Regions from separate parts of the Homo sapiens genome. Here region 2 is linked to region 1. The links come from fine-mapping of genetic effects on gene expression. Tissue or cell type: whole blood. Region 1 holds a variant in brackets; the other region holds the start of a gene. All regions are shown on one strand. Distances are from middle to middle.

The links. PIP is the estimated chance that this variant, and not a neighbour inherited with it, causes the effect.
Region 2: SLC25A42 starts here. The variant in region 1 is fine-mapped to the expression of SLC25A42 in whole blood (TOPMed, PIP above 0.99).

What each region holds. Positions count from the first base shown.
Region 1 is chr19:18,983,423-18,991,521 of GRCh38, forward strand. It overlaps SUGP2 (SURP and G-patch domain containing 2), which reads right to left. Exons shown (of 11, transcript NM_001017392.5): 11 at 7,471-8,099. Among named protein-coding and RNA genes, the nearest start is that of SUGP2, 46 kb to the right of the region's middle. RefSeq lists an enhancer at 6,465-6,965. The variant G/A (reference allele first, on the strand shown) is at 4,851.
Region 2 is chr19:19,058,954-19,067,052 of GRCh38, forward strand. SLC25A42 (solute carrier family 25 member 42) reads left to right here and starts at 5,041. Exons shown (of 8, transcript NM_178526.5): 1 at 5,041-5,162. LOC124904655 (a long non-coding RNA gene) reads right to left here and starts at 4,572. Exons shown (of 3, transcript XR_007067160.1): 1 at 4,237-4,572; 2 at 3,091-3,198; 3 at 1,873-2,197. RefSeq lists silencers at 4,513-4,682, 4,943-5,212.

The DNA of each region.
Region 1 (8,099 bases):
TGGAAATGGCTTGGACGTCCCACCTGCCTGCCCCAGAGAGTTGTTAACCAACGTCTCTGGGCCTCAGTTTCCTCGTCTGTAAAGGGAGCTGTGGTTGCCTAAGGTGAAAGGAGCACAGGTGCCAAGCGTTCTTTGCCATGCCTGGCGCTATAAGATATCCAGTGCTATCTAGGGATGCCCCCCGGGTGCCCACCCTGGACTCCTGCTTACTTGGACTTGGATAAAAGAAGGTTTTCTGGCCAGGTGCAGTGGTTCATGCCTGTAATCCCAACACTTTGGGAGGCAGAGGCGGATGGATCATCTGAGGTCAGGAGTTCAAGACCAGCCTGAGCAACATGGTGAAACCCCATCTCTACTAAAAATACAAAAATTAGCCAGGTATGGTGGTGCCTGCCTGTAGTCCTAGCTACTTGGGAGGCTGAGGCAAAATAATTGCTTGAAACTGGGAGGTGGGGGTTACAGGGGGTTGCAGTGAGCCCAGATTGAGCTGCTGTACTCCACCAGCCTGGGCAACAGAGTGAGACTCTGTCTCAAAAAAAAAAAAAAAAAAAAAAAAAAAAAAAAAAGAAGAAGAAGAAGAAGAAGGTTTTCTGCGTTCTGAGGGACTTAGTTGCTCCCAGACATCTCTGCCTCTTGCAACAACCTGCCAAGAACGTGGAGAGCCAGAAAGGAGAGGGTGAACATCTCTGGACTGAAACAGGGAAACTGTCAAAGGCTCTAGAGTAGGCAGGTGGGACGTCCAAGCCAGAAAGGACAGGTTTGCTCTGGGTTCCTTGCAAGTGACCTCCATGGGGTTCGGGGCTGAGACGGAGCCTACAACGTTGTCTAAGGCCACATTTCAGACAACTGCCAGAGAATGGTTGTTTTACCAAATAGCTGGCCAGCACACGGGGTCTATGTCTCTGTGTCTTTTGGCTAGGTTATTCACACCCCACCCTCGTCAGCTGTCAGGGTTACCCTGGGGAATGTCAATTCCAGGCACTTCTGGTTCCAGTGGGCATTCAGGCAAAGGGTGCTCCAGCAGCCCAGGGTAGCCCTGATACCCTGCACAGGTGCCTGCCATTAAATGGGGCTGGAACCGAGGGGTATAGATGGAACAGTTCAGAATTGCTTTCATTCCTGCCCTGCCCTTCCAGACTGCTCTTTTAAAAGGTGTAAATCAGGCCAGGCATGGTGATACATGCCTGTAGTCCCAGCTACTCAGGAGGCTAAGGCTGGAGGATCATTTCAGCCCAGGAGGTCAAGGCTGCAGAGAGCTATGATCATGCCACTGTACTCCAGCCTGGGCTACAGAGTGAGATGCCGTCTTAAAAATAATAATGATAATGATGATAAATTTTTTGTTTGTTTTTGAGACAGAGTCTTACTCTGTCACTCAGGCTGGAGTGCAGTGACGCCATCCCGGCTCGCTGCAACCTCCACTTTCCGGGTTCAAGTGATCTTCTCGCCTCAGCCTCCCGAGTAGCTGGAACTATGTGTGTGTACCACCATGCCTGGCTAATTTTTGTATTTTTAGTACAAACGGAATTTTGCCGTCTTGCCCAGGCTGGTCTCAAACTCCTGACCTCAAGCGATCCGTCTGCCTTGGCCTCCCAAAGTGCTGGGATTACAAGCATGAGCCACCGCACCATGACAAAAGCCCCTCTCTACTAAAAAATACAAAAATTAGCTGGGCATGGTGGCGCGTGCCCATAGTCCCGGCTACTCAGGAGGCTGAGGTGGGAGGATTGCGTGAATCTTGGAGGTGGAGGTTGCAGTAAGCCGAGATGGCACCACTACACTCCAGCCTGGGCGACAGAGTAAGACCCTGTCTCAAAACGAAAACCAACAAATAAAAATGTGTGGTGAATGAATGAATGAATGAATGAGTGAACAGACAAGATGTAAAAAGCCGATCAGAGCCTCTGCCAAGGAGATGTCAGAGGGTTTTTCACAGCAGCCTTTGAACAATGGCCCTGGGAGGAAGCCAGGCTTATTTCCCCATTTGACACAGGAAGAAACTGTCTTGGTTCAAATCTGATCCTTTTTTCTCCTAAGACCACAGCTGCCTCCGAAACAAAGGCCGACAATTGCTGCCAGCAAGTGCTTTGCTGTTTTTACTTCCTCTAAACATTCTTCAGTGGATTTTCCTTTCAAACTGGTTGTAAGGAGGCACATGGCTGGGTGTTGGTGGGGGGTGGCACCCCTGCCCGGACCCCACACGCTTCCCTACCACGTGGCCGGTTTGGAGTAGACCCATCTTTGTGCTGAAACACAGCCCAACATTGCCATATACGGGGGGCTTGTCTACATTTTACAAGATTTTTACAAAAATGATGCTACACTTTGCAAATGGATTTATTTTTTTTGAGACAAGGTCATACTCTGTCACCCAGGCTGGAGTGCAGTGGTACAATCACAGCTCACTGCAGCCTTGACCTCCCGGGCTCAAGTGATCCTTCCTCCTCAGCCTCCCAAGTAGGTGGGACTACAGGCATGTGCCACCATGCCCGGCTAGGGTTTCTTTTTTTTTTAATAGAGATGGGGTCTTGTTACGTTGCCCAGGCTGGCCTTGAATTCCTGGCCTCAAGCAGTGCTCTTTCCTCTCCCTCCTAAAGTGCTGGGATTGCAGGTGTGAGCCACCACGCCCAGCTTGGAACATCTTTATTTTAAGATGAGCATGCTGGGGCCTCAGGGAGTGAAGTGAATTTTCCAAAGTCACTCGTTGTGACCAGGACACTGGAGTCAAGGCCCTTTCATCATGTCATGGGGTCTAGGTAAGGACTCAGGAAACTTCATTTATTTATTTATAGATAGAGTTTTGCTTTTGTAGCCCAGGCTGGAGTACAGTGGTGCGATCTCGGCTCACTGCAACCCCCGCCTCCTGGATTCACGCGATTCTCCTGCTTCGGCCTCCGGAATAGCTGGGATTACAGGCATGCACCACCACACCCAGCTAATTTTTGCATTTTTAGTAGAGACGAGGTTTCACCATGTTGGCCAGGCTGGTCTCGAACTCCTGACCTCAGGTGATCTGCCTGCCTCGGCCTCCCAAAGTGCTGGGATTACAGGCGTGAGCCACCACGCCTGGCCTTTGTTTTAAGGAGGAGGAGTCAGCCAATGGGATGCCTCAAGGACTGGGTCCACTGACACAGAACAATGGAAACAGATCAGCGATGTCTGAGTTCACAGCATGCGGGTGCTGCTCCTAAGAACCCTTCTGTAGATGCTACTGTTCTCCCCATTTGCAAATGAGGAAGCTGACACTCAGAGATGTGGATCACCCGCCCCAGGTTACACAGCACAGAGAGGACATGTTAGGACTGAGGATTCAAATTCTTAAGGTTTGCTTTCCTCCTGGCAAAAGCAAGTCATGAAGGCGTGGAAGCTGAAATCTCGAGGCTAACGCTCCCCTTTTCACACCTGGCCACAAGCTGCAAGAACTGGGAGTTGGTGCTCCCATGAGTCCAACCTGAGGATTCGCTGGAGAAAAATTCAGCCAAGAAAAGCTCAGCTCGTGAGGTCCCCCTCCTGGGCTGTGAAGGAAGCGGATAGTGCCAGTCATTACAGAGCCGCAATTCCTGAGTGTTAAAGTTCTCAGGGCCATGAGTATGGACTTCGTGGGAAATAGAAGCACCGTGTAGACCTATGCATGTGTGTATGTCTGTGTGCATACGTGTGCATGTCTCTGTGTATGTATGTGCATGTGTGCACGCATTCGCACATGGCGTTGCACAGGGTGTGTCCATGTGTACGCAAGTGTGTGTATATAGGGAGCTTCTAAATCAGATGAAACCAACTGGAAATCCGGATACTGATGTTTAGAATTCAAGCTCTGGAGTCAGACTGCCCCAGGCCTCAGTTTTTCCATTGGGAAATGGGCTGATCCTCCCCGGATGAGAGCACTGGAGTCCAGAGAGGCCAATGACGATCAGATTTATCTCAGTATATGGTCTGTGCTGTGGGCCTTGAGGCTGAAATTTTGTGAGCTCCTTTAATTCTCTTTTTTGTGTGTGTTGGGGGTTGGCGGCAGGGTCTTGCTCTGTCGTCCAGGCTGGGCTGCAGTGGTGCATTCATAGCTCACTGCAGCCTCCAGCTCCCTGGCTCAAGCAATCCTTCAACCTCAGCCTCCCGAGGAGCTGGGACTACAGGTGGGACTATCATGCCCTGCTAACAAAAACGTTTCTTTTTGTAGAGGTGGAGCCTCCCTATGTTGCCTAGGCTGCAGCCCCAGCATTCATTAATCATCCCCGGCTCCTACCTCTGCCCAGCCCTTAATCCCCCGAACATATGATGGGGATTAATCCCCCAAACCCTTGGGGGGGATTAATCCCCCAAACATATGGGGATGGGGGGACTTGTGACAACTTACCACTCTTTCCCTGGATAGCTCCTCTATGGAATGTGGTAGAGTTTGGGGGCCACCCAACCCTCAGGCTGGCCAGGGAGGGGTGGGCAAGGGGAGCTGAGAAGGGCTTGGGGATCCTCACGAGGGAAAACTGAGGCCCAAGCGGGTGGGATGTGAAAGGATCAGTCGGTAACAAGACCAGTCCCTCTGAACCCTCTAAGAGAGGTCCTGGGTAACCGTATGTATTTAACCCTGCAAGCTGTTGGCTACATTTCACTGGAGAAAATGCAGGCGTGGAGGGTCCCACCGCTTGACCACCTCGGGGAGGACTGACTGTGAGCAGAGGGTCAGTAATAGCGTCCCTGTTGCTGGCACATCTCTGGCCCTCAAAACACCACCCTCCACCATGGGTGGGCATTGGGGTAGTATGTGGACACAGGGGAGATAGAGGCCTGGCTGGGCCCCTCAGGGAACACGGTGACCCCAAACCACCACAGGCTCCTGCACTGTTGAGGTGGGGCTG[G/A]TGACAGGGTGGGGGTGACAGGGACAGAGTTGAGGGACCTGGAGGAGGTAGAGAGAGTCAGCAGTCAGGTCCATATCCCAAGAGGTCAGGGTTTGGGGGGTGAAGCTGGCATTGGAGCCCAGCCTAAGGGCCAGTGCCTGCCAGAGACACCTGCAGGAACCACAGCCCCCACTGTCCCGGAGAGGCAGGGAAACTAGGGAATTGGGACATCAGCAGGGTCACCCCAAAGTTAGATGGCACATGAACTGTGTGGAGGGAGGCAGCAAGGTGAGGAGACCCTCAGGAGGACCCTTTGTTCTCATATGCTATTTCCTGGACTTTGTCCACAAAGAAGCCCATTCTAGGATGTAGGGCCCAAACCCAAATGGCTAGGCGTGGAGAACCTGTTAGCTAAATGACAAGCCATCATACATACATGTGTATATGTAAGTTTATTTCAGGTTTGTATTTTTAGATATAGGGTTGCCCAGGCTGGAGTACTGTGATGCAATCTCAATTCACCACAGCCTCCAATCCTGGGCTCAAGTGATCCTCCCACCTCAGCCTCTCCAGTAGCTGGGATTACAAGCACAGGCTGCCACACATGGCTTCAGAATTTTTTTTTTTTTTTTTTGAGACCAAGGGTCGCTCTTGTTGCCCAGGCTGGAGTGCAGTGGCGCGATCTCGGCTAAACGCAACCTCTGCCTCCAGGGTTCAAGCGATTCTCCTGCCTCAGCCTCCCGAGTAGCTGGGATGACAGGCATGCGCCACCATGCCTGGCTAACTTTTGTATTTTTAGTATAGATGAGGTTTCTCCATGTTGGTCAGGCTGGTCTTGAACTCCCAACCTCAGGTGATCTGCCCACCTCCACCTCCCAAAGTGCTGGGATTACAGGCGTGAGCCACCGCGCCCAGCCTCAGAAATTTTTTAAGTGAAAAAAAGCAGGGAGCAGAATAGAACTTGAAGTATAATTTGCATTTTAAAGGTTCCATCTAAAACACGATTGTGCCTACGATTGTTTACATGTGGAATATCCTCTGAAGCCAACCCAATACCTGCTCTTTTCCCACGGGCCATGGAGACTGCTGAGACAGCCTGTGGGGAGAGGAAGGCAGTCTCCGAGTGGCACCCTTGGAGTGTCCTGTCATTTGTTTTGACTTATGGGAGGAGAAAGCCTCTGTGCTCCATTCCGCATACATCTGGGTTTGGTTTTTCATCTTTTACAAGGAAAACGTCCTCGCGTGCTGCTTGAACATGCATGCGCGCACATCTGTACGTGGGCATGCATGCACAGCAAAGGCCTGGACTGAAGCCACACCTTGCTTTTGCTACTGGGGCTTCTTGGCAGCGCCTTCTGCCTGTCTTGCCCCAAGGAAGCTCCAGGGAGGAGAAAGGCCATGACAGGGATCTTGTGGTTCCACTTAGTCCTAAATTATTAGGTTGGTGGAAAAGTAATTGAAGGTTTTGCCATTACTTTTGCACCAACCTAGTACAAGGCAGCAGGGGAGATTTTACCTTCCAAATGAGATCCTTCCCAGTCTGTAGAGGGGAAACTGAGGCCTGAGATCAAGTGACCTGCCTGGGTCAACGCCAGGACAGGCATCCTGGGCTGGACACCACTCCTCCTGTCCTCCTAAGACACCCTGACCGGCCTTAGGGTGATATTAAGAGGAACTAGGGGAAGAAGGGTTCCACTACTGAAGAGAAATTCCTGGTGGTTCCTCACCCCCTGCAGGTGAGCCCCACATTTTCCCTGCAGGCTCCGGCCTTTCTCAGGGAGTGCCACTGAAGCTAGCGGTTAGACATCGCTAAGATGAAGGCAGGGTGAGGGTCTTGGCTGGCAATAGCTTCCCCCGGGACACGGTAGAAGTGAGGCTGGGGGTCCTGCCTCAGCTTCCTAAGGGCTCTGTCTCAAGGCTCCCGCTAAGCTGCCCACAGGGACCTTTCTACATGAGCATCACCTGCCCTGGGCACAGTGCCTTCCCCCTCCCTGCAGTCTGGCTCCTCCCCTCCTCACCCTGGTCAGGCAGAGGCCCCTGCAGGCCCCCTGGGTGCTGCCTTGGTCTCTGCTGTGCCCTCTGCACGCCCCTCCTCACCTGGAGGGCCAAGGGGCTGTTGACAGAGGAACCATGGGCAGGCTGGCAGCACCCAGGGACAGCAGGGAGTGTGAAGATGACAGAGAGGCAGCTCTGCAGTCAGAGGGTGGCCCAGGCAGGCTCTGGTTTTACTCTGGCAGCTGGAACCCCAGCCCTGGGATGATGGGGCAAAGCCCTGTGGGGACAGGTGAGTCGTAGGCAGCAGGGGCACAGCTCCCACTGCCCTGACACCCCTCAAAGGCAGCTTCTGTACTTGGCGGTACCGATTACCCTCCCCAGCCTCCCCAGAAGGGAATTGCCCTCCCTCTGGTGGGTGCTTGGTCCCTTCCTGCTCTCTGGCATCTTCCAAGCTTTCCTGGTGACAGTGACACAAGGTCCCTCAGGTGGGGCAAGCCAGTGAGGAGGGGCCCGAGGGAGGAGCACCACGCCGGCGGAGGGCACGTCCTGGGAGGCAGCCATCATCTGGTTCTACACTGCACTCCCATCTGCGTGCGCTGGTGTCTGATCTGATTTTAAAAACACAGCCATGGAGACCCCAGCACACTGCATTTCCTCTACATTTATTGCAACGGCTAAATGATTAACAACATTCACAACTTCTTAGATCTTAAAAAACAGAAACAAAAGAAAACTTCCATTTTGTAACATCACAAATGTCTTCTAGGCTTTATCAAGGACCAAAAACACTACAATTCTCTAAGTGATTTCCAGTGATGGAAACAAGCCAGAGACAGTAAAGCACCCAGAGTGGCGAGAGAGCACTTCCAGATGCCTGTTGTCCTCTCGGGGGTGACCCTGGAACTAGAACGACAGAAAAGACACTGTGACTTTGACACGGCTGTGCCACCACACATCACGCGCGACACGAGGATCCTGCAGAGCGGCCTCTGCAGAGAGCAAGGACAGCCTCGGTTAAGAGGGAGGGGCTGGGGGCACGGAGGGCCAGTGGCATCTCCTCTATCCCGGCTGGCCGGCAGCTGGCAGCACGCACCATGCTCTGCTGGCTCCCGACACCTTCACTGCCCCAGCGCTGAATCCACAGGAGAGGTGTCCTCTGAGAGTGTAGGGGGCTTTCTAGGTTCAAGGAGATGTGCCCTTTGACCCCTGCCAAGGACTCACAGAACCATCTCAGCTCAAACTTGGAGGAGCGGCAGGAGGTGGGGGGCGGTCAGT
Region 2 (8,099 bases), 76 kb after region 1:
GCCCTCAGTGACCACCCCACCCCAAGCATTCTGGGGGTGCCCAGACAGCTGTGGCCCTGCAGACCCCAGCTCTTCTGCTCTGAAGTCACACTCAGAGGTCACACCGTGGTCACTAGGTGGCTTGTGCATCTCTTGTGGCCTCACGGGGGTCCGGGCAGCCTCATGACCACTGGTGTGTGCCCTAGCCTTCCTGCCCACACCTTGGAGGCCTCTCCCCTCTTGGACCCTCGCCCCTGCTTGTCATGTGCCTCCCCGAGCCCCAGGATGGCCTGGGCTCAGTCCTTGACCTCAGGGACACTCCTTTCCCAGCAGGCCCCCAGCTTCCGTGGAATCCAGCCGATGCAAACAGCTGAGGAGCGTCACCCTGGCTGCACCTCTCCGTGGTGTCCCCGTCTCCCCTGCCCCCAGCAGGAAAGGGTGCTCTCAGCTCAGCAGGGCTGGCCCAAACCTCTGACCCAGTCACCCCGCCCTATCCCTCCTCCCTGGAGACTCCCAGGATGTGGGAGAAAGATCTCGAATCTGCCCCAGACTGCCCTGACTTAACTTCTGGGCCAGTGTGACCTTGGGCAGTTCTCAAGCATTTCTTCATCTGTCATGTGGCGGGGTAGGTGCTCCTGAGCTATTTCGAGGACGGCCTGCAGTGCTGGCCCTGTCATTCCTGCTCCAGCCTTGCTCTCAGTCTGCCCATGGCTCCCCTTTGCCTTCTACATAAAACCAAACCTGTCTGTGGTCCCAGCAACTTGGGCTAAGGCGGGAAGATCACTTGAGCCCAGGAGTCAAGGCTGCAGTGAGTTAGGATGGCACCACTGCACTCCAGCCTGGGTGACGGATCAAGAGCTTGTCTCAAAAACAAACAAACAAACAAAAAAATGCACTTCATGCCCTGCAGACCCAGTATGGCCCAGGCCTTGCCCATTTCCCAGTCTTTCCACTGTACTCACTCCCTATTCCCCCACCCCAGGGCCTTTGCACAAGCCCCCATGTGACAAGCCATGCCCTCTGCCTAGAAGTGCCCTTCCCTTGGCCTTCCCCGTGGCCGGCTCCTCCTAGCACATGAGGTTTCAGCTCACGTTGCCTTCTCCAGGAGAGACCCCCATCTCATCACCTCATGTGCTCTGGCTCTGACACTGGGCCCCATCTGAGGTCACCTCATTTGTGAACTCTCCTGTTTGTCTTGCCCCCACCATCGGCTGGCTCCCTGCAGGGAGGCCCCTGTCCCCACTTGCTGTGCCTTCAGCTTCCCGTCAGTGTTTTTGAGTGTTCACCTGAATAAACTGACAAGCACTCGAGGTCCCTGCCAGGTGGCCCCAGCGTCCTCCCCTGGGCCTGGGCCAAGCTGCAGGCTTCTTCAGGAAGGGGTGGTTCTGCCTTATCTGTCCCTCCCACCTTAGCCCAAGGAAGTGGGTGTCTTCAGTAGATGCAGCTAGCATGTTTGGACAGCCTCAGGTTGGGTGGGGGCCCCTCACCAAAGATCTCACATTTCCCTGGGGTTATGGCCTGGCTTTCCATCCCCCCTCGGCCACTTCAGGCATATCACCTCCCGTCTGTGAGCCTCGGCCTTCTCATCTGAACTCAGGCTAGATCTGGCACACTGGAGGGCCACAGCCCCTAGAAAGGCGCGCTTCAGGGGATGTCCAGAACATAACTCCCCCCAGCCCCCATCCCCGTCGCCTTCCCTTTTCTGTCACCCAGGCTGGAGTGCAGTGGCGCCATCTCGGCTCACTGCAAGCTCTGCCTCCCAGGTTCACACCATTCTCCTGCCTCAGCCTCCTGAGTAGCTGGGATTACAGGCGCCTGCCACCACCCCCGGCTAATTTTTTTGTATTTTTAGTAGAGATGGGGTTTCACCTTGTTAGCCAGGATGGTCTTGATCTCCTGACCTCGTGATCCGCCCGCCTCGGCCTCCCAAAGTGCTAGGATTACAGGCGTGAGCCACCGCACCCGGCCCTGGCCTTCTCTTAAGTAGCTTTTGCTGTCCTCCTTGATGACATCGAGACCTGGGCTGAGGTGGAGCCTGCTGCAAGGATGGTGCGAGTGTGTTCAGGCCACGCCTCTGCTACTGTAGGCTCTTGGTGAAGTGGCCTGACTTATCTGAGCCTTGGGAGGTGAATGAGGCCACTCTGACCCCAGCCAGGCTTGGTTGTTGTCACTGCTGTGTTCAGGATGTCTCCCTCCAGCCAGGGATGGGCTTGGGCTCCTGGGAAAGGAACACAGATTTTTTCTGTTGTGAACATACATCTCCCAGAGGCTGGACTAAACCTCATTTTCCAGATAGGAAATAGACTCATGGGCATTTGAGGGGCTGCGGTGGGATGAGACCACAGCTTGGCCTGCCTCCAGGCCCCTCATCTTTTTCCAAAGCTGTTAACCTGACCTTGGGCAAAAGGCCTTTGGGCCTCAGGTGATTAGGCCTGGACGCTGTGCCAGGGCCTGGCTCACAGATGATTCCTGGGATCCCCAAGAGGTAGAGGAGACTGGAGGGCGAAGAGGCAGTGTCCTGTCCAGGGCTGGCCAGCCAAAGCAGAAGAGCCGAGATCCTGGGCACCCTAGCTGGGCTTACATGAGTGCCCATGGTGGGGGTGTCCATTGCTATTGCCAAGGTGCTTTGCCTGCCATTGCTGGAAGGCGGTAGGGAGGTTGGCTGGCGCCAGCCTGCTAAAGAACGAGCAGAAGCTAGAGAGGCAGCCCCAGGCTGGGCCAGAGCCTGACCTTTGCCTTAGTTGGCTCTGTCCCTGGAGGCACTGTGGGACCTTCCAGGAGCTTTGTTACCTCCCCCTCCCAGGGCCTGGCAGGTGGGCACTGGGAGTGGGCGCTCCTCGGCGTAGATATCTCCCTCTTGGTGTGGCAAGCCACGCCCATAGTTGGTCTGTGTCCATGAAGCGCTATTTACAGAGAGGGAAACAGGCCCAGAGAAGAACAATATATCATCACCAGCCTTCCATGAGTGCTTACTGTGGACGAAGCCATTGTAAGTGTTTTGCTTCCATTTCATCAATGCTCACATCAGCCCTAGGAGACAGCCGGGAAACTGAAGTGGGGAGCTTGTGTTATTTGCTGAAGGTCCTGTGGCTGTTACTGGCCATTACTTACGTTAAAAAGAGCAGGGATTCAAACTCAGCCCTGGGTCCTTCCACCAAGGAATATTCTCCACCATAGGCTCAGTTTTCTTATCTGCTAAGTGGGCACTGTCACGTCCACCTGGAAGTGAGGTGGGGAGATGGTATTGGAGAAAGCCCAGTGGGGACCTGGCACCCAATTGATGTTCAACTGACCTCAGCTTCCCCCTCTTCTCTGGAGGGCAGAATGGAGGCCAGATCCTGGAAGTTGCCAGGAAGCAAACCACAGGTGGGAGGTATGGGAGAGGAGGTCCAGGTAGGCATATCGTGAGAATATCAGGAGTTTGATGATGGCCTTGGGCTAGTGATTTCCCGTCACATCCTCCCCATTTGAAACTTGTGGATCACACACTTAGCAGGGGCTTGTGCAGCCCTGAAATGTGAGCCCTTTCTAAGGTTGGTTTCAGCCTTGCTCCCTCCCAGGATTCCCTGGTTCTGAACTTGATCTCCACCAACCCTGGCCAGCACCTAGAGGAAATAAGAGCTGGTATCTGGAAACATTTGTAGCCCTCTCCATCCTGAAGATGAAGGGTGAGTCATAGAACAGAGTGGCTTCGGGGGAGGTGCCGATGACACAGCCATGCCTGGGATGGCAGGTGTCTCCCTAAACTGCCGGCATTTTTCTGCACTTCACAGAGGAGCTGAGGCTCACAGGCCGCACATGACCTGCTCAGGGTCAAATGCTTTCACCAGATAATTAAAATGAGAGCTGAGTTGTAAATTTTCCCAGGGAAGCAACCCCAGAGAGGAAAGATCAAGGCATAGGAATCATTTTCCCCCCTCTTTTCCAAATGAAACAGCTGAGGCTCACAAGGGCTTTTGCCCAAGGTTGTGTGGTGGGCCAGTGATTGGACAAGGATTCAAACCCAGGTCTCTGAGGCCCCCAGTGGCTCTTCTCTGACACACTCTTTCCAAAAAGCAGGCTGCTCTAGATTCATTCTCTGGTTTAGCAACCAGAGAATGCTGTGTAACCTTGGGCAAGGAGCTTGACCTCTCTGTGCTCTGGTTTCTGTAAAAGGAGCCAGTGGTCTCTCTGACCTCATGGGATTGTGGTTAAGATTCAGTTAATTCAAAAAAAGACTTGGCAGGGAGAAGGCCCAACAGGGATGTCACTGGATACCGTGGCGGGGAAAGCTGGGACGCAGAGAGGTCAGACACTCAGAAAACCACGCAGCGCGTTTCAGTAGGATTCCGCCCCTTATTTCCATGTCTTCACACCACCTCGAGATGGAGAGGGCAGTTCAGAGTGACCTCCAGCGAATCTGCCCTCTCCGTGTCGTCTGCAGGGGATTAGTGGGGAGTAAGGGGATAGAGAATTATCCAGGAGTCCTTCAGCCTTGATGGTCCAAGTTCACATCCGCTTCTGTGCTAGGTGGCCAGAGGGCGGGCTCTACACGAGAGCCTCAGGGGACCCTGCGCCAGGCGTCCGAGGCCACGTCGGGTTGCCGCGCTCCGGGTCGGACTGCACCTTGAACGCTCCAGCCCTCCCCTGGGGGCGTACCGCCCACGGCCGCTGCGACTGGCCGCGGGGCCTGCCAGTCTTCGGCTTTGCGGCCAATCCCGGTCTCCCCCCAAGCTACGCCCTCCGTTCCTCTCGCCTCTGCCCCACCGGTAGCGCCAGTTTCTTCGTAGCCCCGCCCCTGGCCCCCAGCGATTGGCCGACAGTTCTGCCTGTTTTCTGCCAAGATTCCAATCCTCGCCTGCCTCCAGGCCCTCGCCTCCCAGCGCCTAGCACCCTGAGGGACCACTCAGGCACCCCAGGCCTCTCCCAATAGCCCCACCTCTGCCAATCAGCGATTGGCTTTAGGGGCTGCCCATCTGCTTCATACTCGCCAATCACTGTCGCTTCCAGCGCTGACTGGCCAGGGAGCAGCCAATCGGGGCGTGGCGTGGACCCCTCCCGTGGCGCGCTCTGGGGGTGCGCGAGGCGGGGCCGTGGCGGCTGGAGGTAGCGGCGGCGGCGACGCGTCCGGGCCGGTGAGGGGGCGCGGGGGGCGCCGGGGGGGCCCAAGCGTCAGCGGCCCGCGCCTGTCGGGCTGAACTGAGGTGAGGCACGGGTCCTGTCATGGATCCCGGGGCGAGGGGCGGATGAGGCGGGGCATGACAGTAGCGTCGCGAGGGCAGGAAGAGGTTAAAGACCCCCCCCAACCCCACACTCCACGTCTACTGCCCCCTGGGGGCTACTGCATCCAGGTTTGAGCCCGTCACCCGCAGTCCACGCACGCCTGACACCACGTCCCTTTTCGTTGACATCCCCCATACACTTTAGACTGTCCTTGCTGACATCTCCCACACCCCTGGGGCCTTGTCCCCGGCGCCCCGCACAGCTGGGTCTGACATCCCCCTCACACACCTGACACCGCGCCCCCACTCACGAACACCCGCCCCCACTCACGAACACCCCCCACATCACCTGAGTCTGTCCTTGTCGATGACACCCCCACACCCACACCTGAGCCTGTGACTCCTAACTCATGGCCTCGCAACTCACACCTGGACCTAGTCCCGTCCCCCACTGCCTTTCCTCATATCCAGGTATCTGCTCGCTACTCTCGTGCCCACTCCCCCAGCAACCTGTGTCTCTCTTCTCAGGGACCTTCCCCCTGGCACCTGCCCTCTGCCCTGGCAGCCCCACACCTCTGTCTCCCCCTTTTCTCTCTCCCACCTTGGGCTTTCTTCCACGTGCACCTGTGTTCGCACACCCTCTGTAATAATCCCCCCGAATCCCCCAGGTCCTCCAATAGTCCCCCAAGCCTTGGTATCTCAGGATCGCTGCACCCTCCCCTCCCCAAACAAAAGCTTACCCCAGTGTTCATTTCTAACAGTGCTTGACAGTCTATAAAGTGATTTCCGGACCTTAGAATAATCCCATCTGTCAGACCAAACCGGAATCATCTCCATTTTACCAGCCACAGACCTAAACCACTTGAATGCTAGAGGCAGAGCCTATTCTACCCTGGGCATCGCTGACCCTCTGCTGTGGACCCACCGCGTTTGGGCCCATCTGTTATGTTTATCTCAGAGGGATTGGCAGGAGTCGTGACTTTGACTGGGTCCGGAAAGGCTTAGCTGGAAGGGACGGCCCCTCTGCCAAGCGTGTGTCTCGGAGTCCTGGGGCAGGCTGGCGGTGGAGACGCTGCCGGAGGAGGGGGGCTCATCATCTTGGGTGCCTCCTGCAGGATGCCGGAGAGGGGGTTGCCGGGGCCGGGGCTCCCAGCTCTTGCAGACCCGGGACCCCTCTCCGACACTCCCTGGGCCCTTGAAGCCGATAAAGAGTAAGGAAACACTCTTTAGAGTGAGGCAAACTAATGTTTCAGCTGTTTAAAGCTAACCTGCAAAACGAGCCTGGGTGGTGCTAGGAATGATTCTTCTGGAATTTTTTAGTTCCCTTGAGTCTGATTTGCAAGCATGCAGCATAGAAGGAGGACAGTGGCTTTGTTGTTGAAAAGCAATAACGTGCCATTTCCTGTAAGGCTCCTGGAGCGTTTCTTACCCCCTCCCACCGCTCCCTGCAAAGACGGTACCAGAATGTTTCAGAGGGTCATGTCACCTTCAGCTTCTCCTGTGGAAACTGAAGCCATTTGGGTTTTCTGTCCAACTTCAATAGGAGTCATTTAAAACATATATGGGCATGTATGTATATATGTATGTATATGTGTGTGTGTTGTACACATATGTACATGTACCTATAATATTCATATGTTTATATACATATTTTATATATACATATTTCGTGTGTGTTATATATGTACATGTGTATAAACTTTGGCAAGATCATTGAGTATATAGTTTTTGGGTTTTTTTTGAGACGGAGTCTTGCTCTGTTGCCCAGGCTGGAGTGCAGTGGTGTGATCTCGGCTCACGGCAACCTCTGCCTCCTGGGTTCATGCAGTTCTCCTACCTCAGCCTCCTGAGTAGCTGGGATTACAGGCATGTGCCACCACACCCAGCTAATTTTTGTATTTTTAATAGAAACGGGGTTTCACCATGTTGGCTAGGCTGGTCTCGCACTCCTGACCCCAAGTGATCTGCTCGCCTCAGCCTCCCAAGATGCTGGGATTACAGGCGTGAGCCACCACACCCGGCCTATTATATAGTTAAAAAGAAAAAATCAAACAGTACAAAAGGTCACATAGTAGAAATCAGTCAGGTCTTCCCCAGCCTGTACCCCGTTCCTCCTCAGATGCACCTGCTGTTGATAATTTCTTATGTTTTCTTCCAGAGGTAGTCTATGACTGGGGTGGCAGAAAGGGGTCGGGGGAGGTATATATCCCCCACCCCTTTTAAACCACTGGTAAATTTGCATTGAGCAGACATATGCATTCTAAGGCCAGTCCCTTACTGATGGCTGTTTAAGCTGCAGCCCATATTTTTTTTTTCTTTCTTTTTTTTTTTTTGAGTTGGATTCTTGCTCTGTCGCCCAGGCTGGAGTGCAGTGGCGCGATCTCGGCTCACTGCAAGCTCCGCCTCCCAAGTTCAAGCCATTCTCCTGCCTCAGCCTCCTGAGTAGCTGGGACTACAGGCACCCACCACTACACCCGGCTAATTTTTTCATATTTTTTTAGTAGAGACGGGGTTTCACTGTGTTAGCCAGGATGGTCTCGATCTCCTGACCTTGTGATCAGCCTGCCTCGGTCTCCCAAAGTGCTGGGATTACAGGCGTGAGCCACTGCGCCCAGCCACTGCAGCCCATATTTAGCTTTTACAAACAGAGCTGCAATGGATAGATGCATGCATCAGCATGTACTAAATACACATTGAACGTATTTGGGCTCCAGCCGTGCTCAGACACTTCAGACCCCCCTGTCTTGCTGGCCATGCCTGTAGTCCACAGTTACTCAGGAGGCTGAGGTGGGAGGATTGCTTGAACCAAGGAGTTCAAGGCTGCAGTGAGCTATAATCATGCCACTGCACTCCTCTCCAGCCTGGACGACAGAGCTAGACCCTGTCTCAAAAAAAAAAAAAAAAAAGGGCCAAGTAAAA